2 linked regions of the Homo sapiens genome follow. The protein of the gene in region 1 purifies or fractionates together with the protein of each later gene. This does not show direct contact. Each region holds a gene or a part of one and is shown in the gene's direction. Other genes may lie near its edges.

Evidence for each region. The genes of interacting proteins can lie anywhere in the genome.
Region 2: the proteins of PCDHB13 (region 1) and SPSB4 purify together in Homo sapiens (co-immunoprecipitation; one large-scale study listed by IntAct). This does not show direct contact.

The regions. Positions count from the first base shown.
Region 1 is NC_000005.10:141,211,641-141,217,257, forward strand, and holds the start of PCDHB13 (protocadherin beta-13 precursor), read left to right. Parts: upstream 1-2,278; 5' UTR 2,279-2,483; coding exon 2,484-4,880; 3' UTR 4,881-5,617. UniProt on the Homo sapiens protein: Potential calcium-dependent cell-adhesion protein. May be involved in the establishment and maintenance of specific neuronal connections in the brain.
Region 2 is NC_000003.12:141,056,924-141,061,995, forward strand, and holds part of SPSB4 (SPRY domain-containing SOCS box protein 4), read left to right. Parts: intron 1-5,072. UniProt on the Homo sapiens protein: Substrate recognition component of a SCF-like ECS (Elongin BC-CUL2/5-SOCS-box protein) E3 ubiquitin-protein ligase complex which mediates the ubiquitination and subsequent proteasomal degradation of target proteins.

The DNA.
Region 1 (5,617 bases):
TAGTTTCAGAAGCATAGATTGTAGTGTACCTTTTTAAACTTTATTTTTTTAAAAAAAGTTGTTTTATGAATCATACACTATTTTCACACTTTTAATCTCAGAAGAAACATATGTGACATGGTATTTTAGTAATGACCAAATAGACGGTCTTAGAGATTCAGTAAGTTCACTAAGGTCCACTAACTAATAAGTGACAAAACTGAGCATCCATCCTAGATCTGCCTGACTCTAAGTCAGTGACTTTGCTCCCATTCCATACTGTTTTTGTCATTGGATATCACCTGGCAAGTTTCTGCCTAACTAAAGAGAAGAAAAGTTTTTATCGTATTCATACTACTGTTCAATCTTTATTTAGAAATAAACTTTATCTATGATTTCATTTTCTTATAAACCAGTAATCTTGCTTTTCTGGGTAAATTTTCAGCTATTATTACTAATGCTCTGATCTGCCCAAATCTTAAGTAAAAAACAAAATTGAAAGAGCAACCTATGCCTTCTCATTGTCTCCTGAACATATAACTATCATTTCACAGAAAAGATTAATGGTCCTGATTAGGAATAGTACATAATTTTGATGGCATTATTAGTTAATTATTTTCTTTACATTGTAGTATATTTCCAGAGTCACCCATGCTTACATTTGTAATATATTTTCCTGATTTGAGAGTTTGTTTTTAGCAGTTTTTCTTACCTATACTGCACTGCTGAATCAGGAAAATTTAAGAAAAAGAATAGATTTAAATGTGTAATATCAAAGAGAAATATAGATGATCATTAAATTTTTAGAAATTTTGGGGAGTTAAGGAGAAGCATTGTTTGTTAAAAATATATAACCGATTCTTATATTTAAAATAGGTAATTTTTGCATAGTTGTGTTCTAAATATATTATAAACTAGTGCCAGTAACTCTAATAAAGCTAGTATTACTGCATATCACTGGTGGGATAGAATCTAAGGACAAAAACTCACAGTAGTAAAATCTAAAATTGCTTTCATGGTCTCAGGGTAAAATTATCCAATTTCTCTGACAAATAAATGGCTCAAAAAATAAGAGGAGTGAAGTTTACACAAGGAAAAATCTTAAGAGGTCTACCACTCAAATACAATGTGTGGATCTTTTTTGGATCTTGATTGAAACAACAGCAATGACTTTGAAAAACTTGGAAGAATTTGAATATAGATGGGTATTAAATAATGTTAACTTGATTTTTAGGTATGATAATGGCATTGTACTTAAGCATATTTTTAGAGTCATTTAAAGTCATGATGCTTTTAAAGAAATGTATAATGACGTATTTGTGGGAGAAAATTCAGTTTGTCTGGGATGTGAAAATGTTGAAGGGATAGAGTCAAGAATTATGGCAAAACATTGATAATAGTTGAAGCTAGTACTGAGTCCTTGGAGGATCATTATACTCCTCTCTTTTATGAGATTTGAAAAATTTCAAAATAATGTCTTTTAATTGATGCTGTTAGAAGTGGAGGTAATAAAAAAGGACATCCTTCCCAGAAACAAAATCACCACTGCTGTTACAGATATTGTCTCTATTTAGACAAACTCTCCAGCCTTTCCTTGTTCATTTCCTTTCATTATTGGACATAACCTCTCTACCTGAGATAGTCATGCTCCTGTATTCTTCTACCATTTGAATTTCGAGGTGTTTATCTAGTTATAGTAATGGATTTATGCTAGACTTATGATGGATTTATGCCATCAAGACTCAGTTACTTGATGGCATCAAATTGCTTTATACTTGGTATATACCTTATTTTTAAGGTTAATATCTATTTGCATTAGATTCCTCATGTTTAAGGTGGGGAATTCACAACAGCCCTATGTGGTAGGTACTGTTCTTATCCTCACTTTACAGAGGAGCAAACTAAAGCAGAGAGATTAAATAATTTGTTCGAGGTTCACAGCTACTAATTATTCCTATGGTTCATGGAAATAAAACTATAAAGATCTAAATGTTGTCCATGATAACTACAATTATATTTGAAATTCTTTTTGCCAAGCTAGACTATTACCTAAATATTTCCTTTCTGCCCAAAACTCAGTTATCATTGTTGAAAGACTAATGTGATTTCTCCTTTGGGCAGTTGTCTGCTCACTAAAGTCCGGCGATATTAACGGTGGTGTTGTAACCTTACATAGTCTCGGGGTGCATACAGGCAGAGTTGGGAATATTACATCCATTATCATTCCACAAAATGTAAGATCCTGTGAGGACGCGTGGTGGCGCTGCAGGATAAGAAGGCACAAACCAGAACCGCAGCTGCAGCTCCATTAACCGGCAAAAAGCAGCAGAACCTGGAAGTCCACGGGGAGCTTGGATGCCAAAGGGAGGACGGCTGGGTCCTCTGGAGAGGACTACTCACTGGCATATTTCTGAGGTATCTGTAGAATAACCACAGCCTCAGATACTGGGGACTTTACAGTCCCACAGAACCGTCCTCCCAGGAAGCTGAATCCAGCAAGAACAATGGAGGCCAGCGGGAAGCTCATTTGCAGACAAAGGCAAGTCCTTTTTTCCTTTCTCCTTTTGGGCTTATCTCTGGCGGGCGCGGCGGAACCTAGAAGCTATTCTGTGGTGGAGGAAACTGAGGGCAGCTCCTTTGTCACCAATTTAGCAAAGGACCTGGGTCTGGAGCAGAGGGAATTCTCCAGGCGGGGGGTTAGGGTTGTTTCCAGAGGGAACAAACTACATTTGCAGCTCAATCAGGAGACCGCGGATTTGTTGCTAAATGAGAAATTGGACCGTGAGGATCTGTGCGGTCACACAGAGCCCTGTGTGCTACGTTTCCAAGTGTTGCTAGAGAGTCCCTTCGAGTTTTTTCAAGCTGAGCTGCAAGTAATAGACATAAACGACCACTCTCCAGTATTTCTGGACAAACAAATGTTGGTGAAAGTATCAGAGAGCAGTCCTCCTGGGACTACGTTTCCTCTGAAGAATGCCGAAGACTTAGATGTAGGCCAAAACAATATTGAGAACTATATAATCAGCCCCAACTCCTATTTTCGGGTCCTCACCCGCAAACGCAGTGATGGCAGGAAATACCCAGAGCTGGTGCTGGACAAAGCGCTGGACCGAGAGGAAGAAGCTGAGCTCAGGTTAACACTCACAGCACTGGATGGTGGCTCTCCGCCCAGATCTGGCACTGCTCAGGTCTACATCGAAGTCCTGGATGTCAACGATAATGCCCCTGAATTTGAGCAGCCTTTCTATAGAGTGCAGATCTCTGAGGACAGTCCGGTAGGCTTCCTGGTTGTGAAGGTCTCTGCCACGGATGTAGACACAGGAGTCAACGGAGAGATTTCCTATTCACTTTTCCAAGCTTCAGAAGAGATTGGCAAAACCTTTAAGATCAATCCCTTGACAGGAGAAATTGAACTAAAAAAACAACTCGATTTCGAAAAACTTCAGTCCTATGAAGTCAATATTGAGGCAAGAGATGCTGGAACCTTTTCTGGAAAATGCACCGTTCTGATTCAAGTGATAGATGTGAACGACCATGCCCCAGAAGTTACCATGTCTGCATTTACCAGCCCAATACCTGAGAACGCGCCTGAAACTGTGGTTGCACTTTTCAGTGTTTCAGATCTTGATTCAGGAGAAAATGGGAAAATTAGTTGCTCCATTCAGGAGGATCTACCCTTCCTCCTGAAATCCGCGGAAAACTTTTACACCCTACTAACGGAGAGACCACTAGACAGAGAAAGCAGAGCGGAATACAACATCACTATCACTGTCACTGACTTGGGGACCCCTATGCTGATAACACAGCTCAATATGACCGTGCTGATCGCCGATGTCAATGACAACGCTCCCGCCTTCACCCAAACCTCCTACACCCTGTTCGTCCGCGAGAACAACAGCCCCGCCCTGCACATCCGCAGCGTCAGCGCTACAGACAGAGACTCAGGCACCAACGCCCAGGTCACCTACTCGCTGCTGCCGCCCCAGGACCCGCACCTGCCCCTCACATCCCTGGTCTCCATCAACGCGGACAACGGCCACCTGTTCGCCCTCAGGTCTCTGGACTACGAGGCCCTGCAGGGGTTCCAGTTCCGCGTGGGCGCTTCAGACCACGGCTCCCCGGCGCTGAGCAGCGAGGCGCTGGTGCGCGTGGTGGTGCTGGACGCCAACGACAACTCGCCCTTCGTGCTGTACCCGCTGCAGAACGGCTCCGCGCCCTGCACCGAGCTGGTGCCCCGGGCGGCCGAGCCGGGCTACCTGGTGACCAAGGTGGTGGCGGTGGACGGCGACTCGGGCCAGAACGCCTGGCTGTCGTACCAGCTGCTCAAGGCCACGGAGCTCGGTCTGTTCGGCGTGTGGGCGCACAATGGCGAGGTGCGCACCGCCAGGCTGCTGAGCGAGCGCGACGCGGCCAAGCACAGGCTGGTGGTGCTGGTCAAGGACAATGGCGAGCCTCCGCGCTCGGCCACCGCCACGCTGCACGTGCTCCTGGTGGACGGCTTCTCCCAGCCCTACCTGCCTCTCCCGGAGGCGGCCCCGACCCAGGCCCAGGCCGACTTGCTCACCGTCTACCTGGTGGTGGCGTTGGCCTCGGTGTCTTCGCTCTTCCTCTTTTCGGTGCTCCTGTTCGTGGCGGTGCGGCTGTGTAGGAGGAGCAGGGCGGCCTCGGTGGGTCGCTGCTTGGTGCCCGAGGGCCCCCTTCCAGGGCATCTTGTGGACATGAGCGGCACCAGGACCCTATCCCAGAGCTACCAGTATGAGGTGTGTCTGGCAGGAGGCTCAGGGACCAATGAGTTCAAGTTCCTGAAGCCGATTATCCCCAACTTCCCTCCCCAGTGCCCTGGGAAAGAAATACAAGGAAATTCTACCTTCCCCAATAACTTTGGGTTCAATATTCAGTGACCATAGTTGACTTTTACATTCCATAGGTATTTTATTTTGTGGCATTTCCATGCCAATGTTTATTTCCCCCAATTTGTGTGTATGTAATATTGTACGGATTTACTCTTGATTTTTCTCATGTTCTTTCTCCCTTTGTTTTAAAGTGAACATTTACCTTTATTCCTGGTTCTTAAAAGGTGACAATTCATTCTTTAACCCAGATGGTCTTAATTTGTAATTAATTTGCCTCCCTAAAGAGCAATACCAAATCACATTTTTTTCATGCCCCTATCTTTAGCTGAACTTCACCCACTATTATGCTTATGGTAAAATTAAATAGAGCAATTTGGAAGTGATTCCAATTTTCCAGCATTTCTTCATTTGATTCTCTTTTTTTAGTCTTAAAATAATGACTCCTATTCAGACATATCATTTTTCTTTTTTGTAAATCCAGTGCGTTTTTAGTTAACCTTTAAATATGCTTTTTGCTTTCAAAAATAAACCAGAAAACCTATATCCTATGATACAACTCTAAGTGTTATCACTTGATTCGAAAGGGTCAGAAGACCAGTTTTTTAGTATCCTTTCCTCATTCATCCTGGAGAGGATTGTGCAGGCACATTAATATTGTGACCAATCACAGAATCTGGGAATATGAAGCTATAATTTTTTAATTAATGTCACAAAGCTCTAGTGCAATCTAGTTGAATGCAGATGCCTGTGCCCAAATAATAATTCATATAGCATAAATTGGAGTT
Region 2 (5,072 bases), on another chromosome or scaffold:
CCTCCTTCATCCCATTTGCTGCTCTCCTTGCTGGCTGACAGCCCAGCTTGCACCTTGGGGGCCCCTGGCTCAGTCACGCGTGGGAGGATTCCCATGGAAACCCCAGGAGGAGGAGAGGCTCAGGGAAGCCTCATTGATTCTCGCTCCAGGAAAACAGGCGTGAGATGATTCCACCTGGAACTGGACAGATGGCTCTCTTTGTGAGCTCTTGGGGAAGAAAGGGCTTGCCCAGCCAGTTGTAGCCTGAGCTCCATGTGTGTATAGCAGGGAAAAGCTAATGAATGCCTATGAACAAAACCTTGGGGGTTCTTTAGTTCATTCATTGTTGGTGGGTTCATTCTGAATGAGCATCTTTAATAAAACAGCCTCCCTACTTAATATTTGCACAAGAAAAATCTTAAAAACATTCCAGTTAAACTAAGGTCAGGCACCTATCATTGGTACCTTTGCACAGAGTCAAAAATTGAAAAATAAAGACATGAAATAAATAGTCTGAGCTCACAGTGCTCTGCATTCCCAGTTCATTCTTAAGTGTTGGTTCTTTCTAAGGCAGTGTATTGCTTTTCTTCATTTGTTCGTGCTCGTGCATTCCATAGACGTTCACCCACCACTTTCTCTAAGCCAGGTCCATGGGGACTCTGATGAGGGACACCCGGCCCCTGCTCCCAAGTTGCCCCAGTCCGATGGGAGGGAGGCAGCCAAAGAGACATCATGTCCCCTTGTGATAAGAGCTGTGGTGGGCACAAGTACAAGGGCTCTGAGAGCACAGGGGGCTGGGGAGCTCCCCAGAGGCACTAATATCTAATATCCTGAAAGCCTCAGAGAACCTGTCGAGGATTTTGAGCAGGAGCGTGATTAGATCAACTGTGTACTTTTACAAGTGCAGTAGTATATATTTGAAAGTAATATGCAGTCTATAAAGGAATTCCAGTGGTATCTAACTGGATTTCTTTTTACAGTCTTTGTCATTATTCAGATCTCTCGTGGAGTCTGACCCCTTTGGTGTAGGCTGTCTCCCTAAGGGAAAGTGGTTGAGTCTTATGCTTTTCAGCAGCCTGAGATCCCCAGGGCAGGCATCATTACTGCTGGCTAGATGAAAGAAGGAGACTTGCCCCCACCTCTGGCTCCAGCAAGTCCAAAGCCAGAGGCCACACAGAGAGAAGGGCATTTCACGCAGTCACTACCAATCCCCACAGCAGTCATGTCTTCTTGCAGACCCCGTGCCTATTGAGCTCAGCTAGACAGGCCTCTGTGGCTGTGATTTTGGGTCCCAGGCCTCTGAAGACTGTGCATCATATTTTTCAAACTAATGAGGTTCCTTAAACAGTGTGGCATTGCCACTTCATGTCTCCTCATTTCCCTGTCGGGTAGGAACATCTGCTAGGGTCCTGGGAAAGGCAATTAGCAAATTAGAGTTTTTGTTTTCTTGCTCAGCCATGATTGAAGCCCCAGAGCAGATCCTTCTGGATAATGTCATTAAGCATCCCCATCCAAGCATGACGTAGGAAATTAAGTTTGGTTTTGGGGAAAAGTGACGGAGGCATCCTTTGGCGTTCTTCAGGATGCTGGCTGCTTACTGGGTTGAGAGATGATGGTATTCCTGTCAGGAAGATGGATCCTGTTGTATGTCCCATGTGCCTGGCCCAGTGCTGCATGCTGTAGTGGAGATGAGGAGAGGAGAAATGTGCTAAGTGCCCACTCCCTCTGGCTGGAGAGAGAAGGCAGGGATGAGCCCGACTTGGCCACTGCTGTGTCCCTTGCTCTCAGCTGCACAGTGCCTGGCACTGTGTTCACTAAGCATTTTTTGAACGAATAAATGAGGGTTGGAAGCAGGGAAGGATGCAAAGCAGTAGCTAATAAAGGAGTAGACTGGATACAGCCAAGAGTCAGCTGCTCAGGAGTGAGAGTCCAACTATGATAGTGGCATTACTGGGCTTCATGTCCCCATATCCTGACTTTAGCCCTGGCCCTTTCTCTGCTTCATCCTCTGAAAAACAGCAGAGCATGAGCCCTCCCTGAAGCCCAGCACAACCTCTCCACAGTCCATATGTGTGTTCTGCCCCATGTTCAAAGTACCAGGCTTGTGTCTTGCATGGAGGGAGTAGTGCAGTGGCTGGGGGCACAGAAGTGCTGGTGAAAGTTTCCTGCCATCAGAGGAATGCCCTCAAGGTAGAAAAAAGCAGATCAGTAAGGCCTGAAAGATGTCCCCCTGGCTGGCTCAAGGGTGGACAGAGGTACAGGGCAGGCCCCAGGAGGCCTACTGGATCAGGGCAGGCTTCCTAGAGGAGGTGGAGCTCACCCTCATGGACTAATTATCTCTCAAAGGCTCCACCTCCAAATACTATCACACTGGGGCTTTGTGTTAGGCCATTTTTGCATTGCTATAAAGAAATACCTAAGACTGAGTAATTTATAATGAAAAGAAGTTTAGTTGGCTCACGGTTCTGCAGGCTTTACAGGAAGCACGGTGCTGGCATCTGCTTGGCTTCTAGAGAGGCCTCAGGAAGCTTACAGTCATGGCAGAAGGTGAAGGAGGAGAAGGCATGTCACATGGTGAAAACAAGAGCAAGAGGCGGGGGTGGGGAGGTGTCACACACTTTTAAATGAGCAGATATCTCTCCAGAACTCAGTCACTATCCCTAAGACAGCACCAAGCCATGACAGACTCACCCCCATGACCCAGACAGCTCCCACCAGGCCTCACCTCCAGCACTGAGGATTACAACTCAACATGAGATTTGAGCAGGGACAAATATCCAACCTATATTAGGCTTCAACATGTGAATTTGGGGAGGACACAATCAGTTCATAGCCAGGCACATTCAAGTGGTGAAATGGCAATGTTGGAACACATCCACAATTTAAAAGAGCACTCACCACTTACTGGAAGCCCTGTGATGTGCCAGACTTTACAGGTGTCTGCTCTGATACTTGCAAAAGCAGGTGAGGTTAGCACATAGTTAGCAGCACTTCCAACCAGTCTCAGAGAGATTAAGTTCTGGCCTAGGGTCCAACAGACAGGTGGGGATTCACATCTAGGTCTCCTGTCCTTCATTAGATTGCCCAGCTGCTAGTTTCCCTTAACGGCTTATCATTCATGGACATGAGCACTCTGCTGTGCGCCCTGTACTGGGGGAGCAGCAAAGGGGCTGTCTATTTACTTGCCCACCTTGTCACACCACAGTGTGAGCACTCTTCAGGATCTCTGCCTGCCTCTAGTAGGGACAGAGACTTTGAGACTATGATTGCAAAGGAGAGCACTGGGCCCTCAATGACCCAGTATGGGCCAAGCCAAGTACTAGTAAGAGGTCTTCCCTGGGGCTGCTGTTTGGCTGTTGCTTTCAAACATGTTTAAGTGTCTTTTCAGCAACAGCAACTCCACAGTTGGCATGGTTGTGTGCAAGGATAAAGCAGTTTCCCTTAGAAATTTTCTGTGTGGGCCACACAGAGCTGGTTACAGTCATTGCTGTGGAGAGGGCATTATTCTAAACAACATGGAGGAAGAAGTAAGAGCACAGGCTTGTCATATGGTAACTCTGGGGTTGATCCCAGTCCTGCCACTTCCTGGCTGTGTGACCCCAGGTTATGCAAGTTATGCAACCTCTCTGAGCCCGGGCTGCTATTGCAAAGAGTGCTGCGTATGTATGCAGTATGTATGCATGTGCTGTGTACATAGGTAGTTTTGTGCATTTGAGAACATATCTGAATAAATGCTGGAAGTAGAATTGCTAGGTCAAAGGGTCTGTATATTTGCAATTCTGAAAGATGGTGTTAATTTGCCATTTGCCGAGGCTAAACCAGTTTATATCCACTTTAGCAATGTATGAGTCTGTCTTCTGTTCCACACATTCTCCAAGCATGCGTTATCCATTTTTTTGACCTTTAATAAGCTGATAGACAAAAATGGCATTTCAATGGAGTTCTAACTCATTTCTTTTTCAGTATACATTGAGTATCTTTTCAAAGGAACCATTTGTTTTTGTGTAAACTGTTGATATCTTTTCATATTTTGTACTTGTATTCATTTGTAGGAGTTTGACATATATTTGTTGGTAATTTGTGTTGCAAATTTTTTCTTATGTTAAAACAAGTCTAACTTCTTTTACAAGTGCTTTCAGCTACACCGTTTTGTTATTTCCCATTTTCATTTCTTGTTTTACATATTTCTGTCTTCTCCCCCATTAAATGATTATATGGTTTATGTTTTATGTGTTTTTAAAAATTTAGTTACTTATGCATTTAAAGTATATTTAGTGATATGTGAAAATGCAAATTACATAATTTTTAGGTGAAATAATCTAAATAAAGGCCCATTATACCAATTTTTAAAAAGAAAATTCATTATAATTTATAGACCAAAAAAAAAGAGAGAATAAAGCAAAATTCCTCCAAAAGCTGACAATGTTTATATCTGGTTAATGAGATAGGAGAAAGAGGTGAATTCTAGTTTTTGTCCTTTTTTTGTATTCTCTAAAATTTAGACATTTATTTAACCTTTTCTAATTAATGAGCTTTATTTCTTCAGAATAGTTTTAGATTTAAAGAAAAACTAAACAGATAGTACAGAGAGGTCCCATATGCTCACTCCATTTATCACCCTAGTTTCCCCAATTATTAGCATCTTACATTAGTATGGCACATTTATCACAACTAATGAACCAGTATTGATACATTATTATTAACTTATTTTAATAATTAATATTAATAATTGTTATTAACATATTTTTTCAGATTTCCTTTTTTTCTCAGATTTCAGTTTTTACCTAATATCCTTTTTCTTCTCTTTCTTTCTTTTTCTTTCCTTTTCTTTCTTTCTTTTTTTTTTTTTTTGAGATGGAGTCTCCCTCTGTCACCCAAGCTGGAGTGCAGTGGCACGATCTTGGCTTACTGCAACCTCCACCTCCTGGGTTAAAGCAGTCCTCCCACCTCAGCCTCCAAAGTAGCTGGGACTACAGGCGTGTGCCGCCACACCTGGCTAATTTTATTTTTTTAGTAGAGACAGCATTTCACCATGTTGGCCAGGCTAGTCTTGAACTCTTGACCTCAAATGATCCACCTGCCTTGGCCTCCCA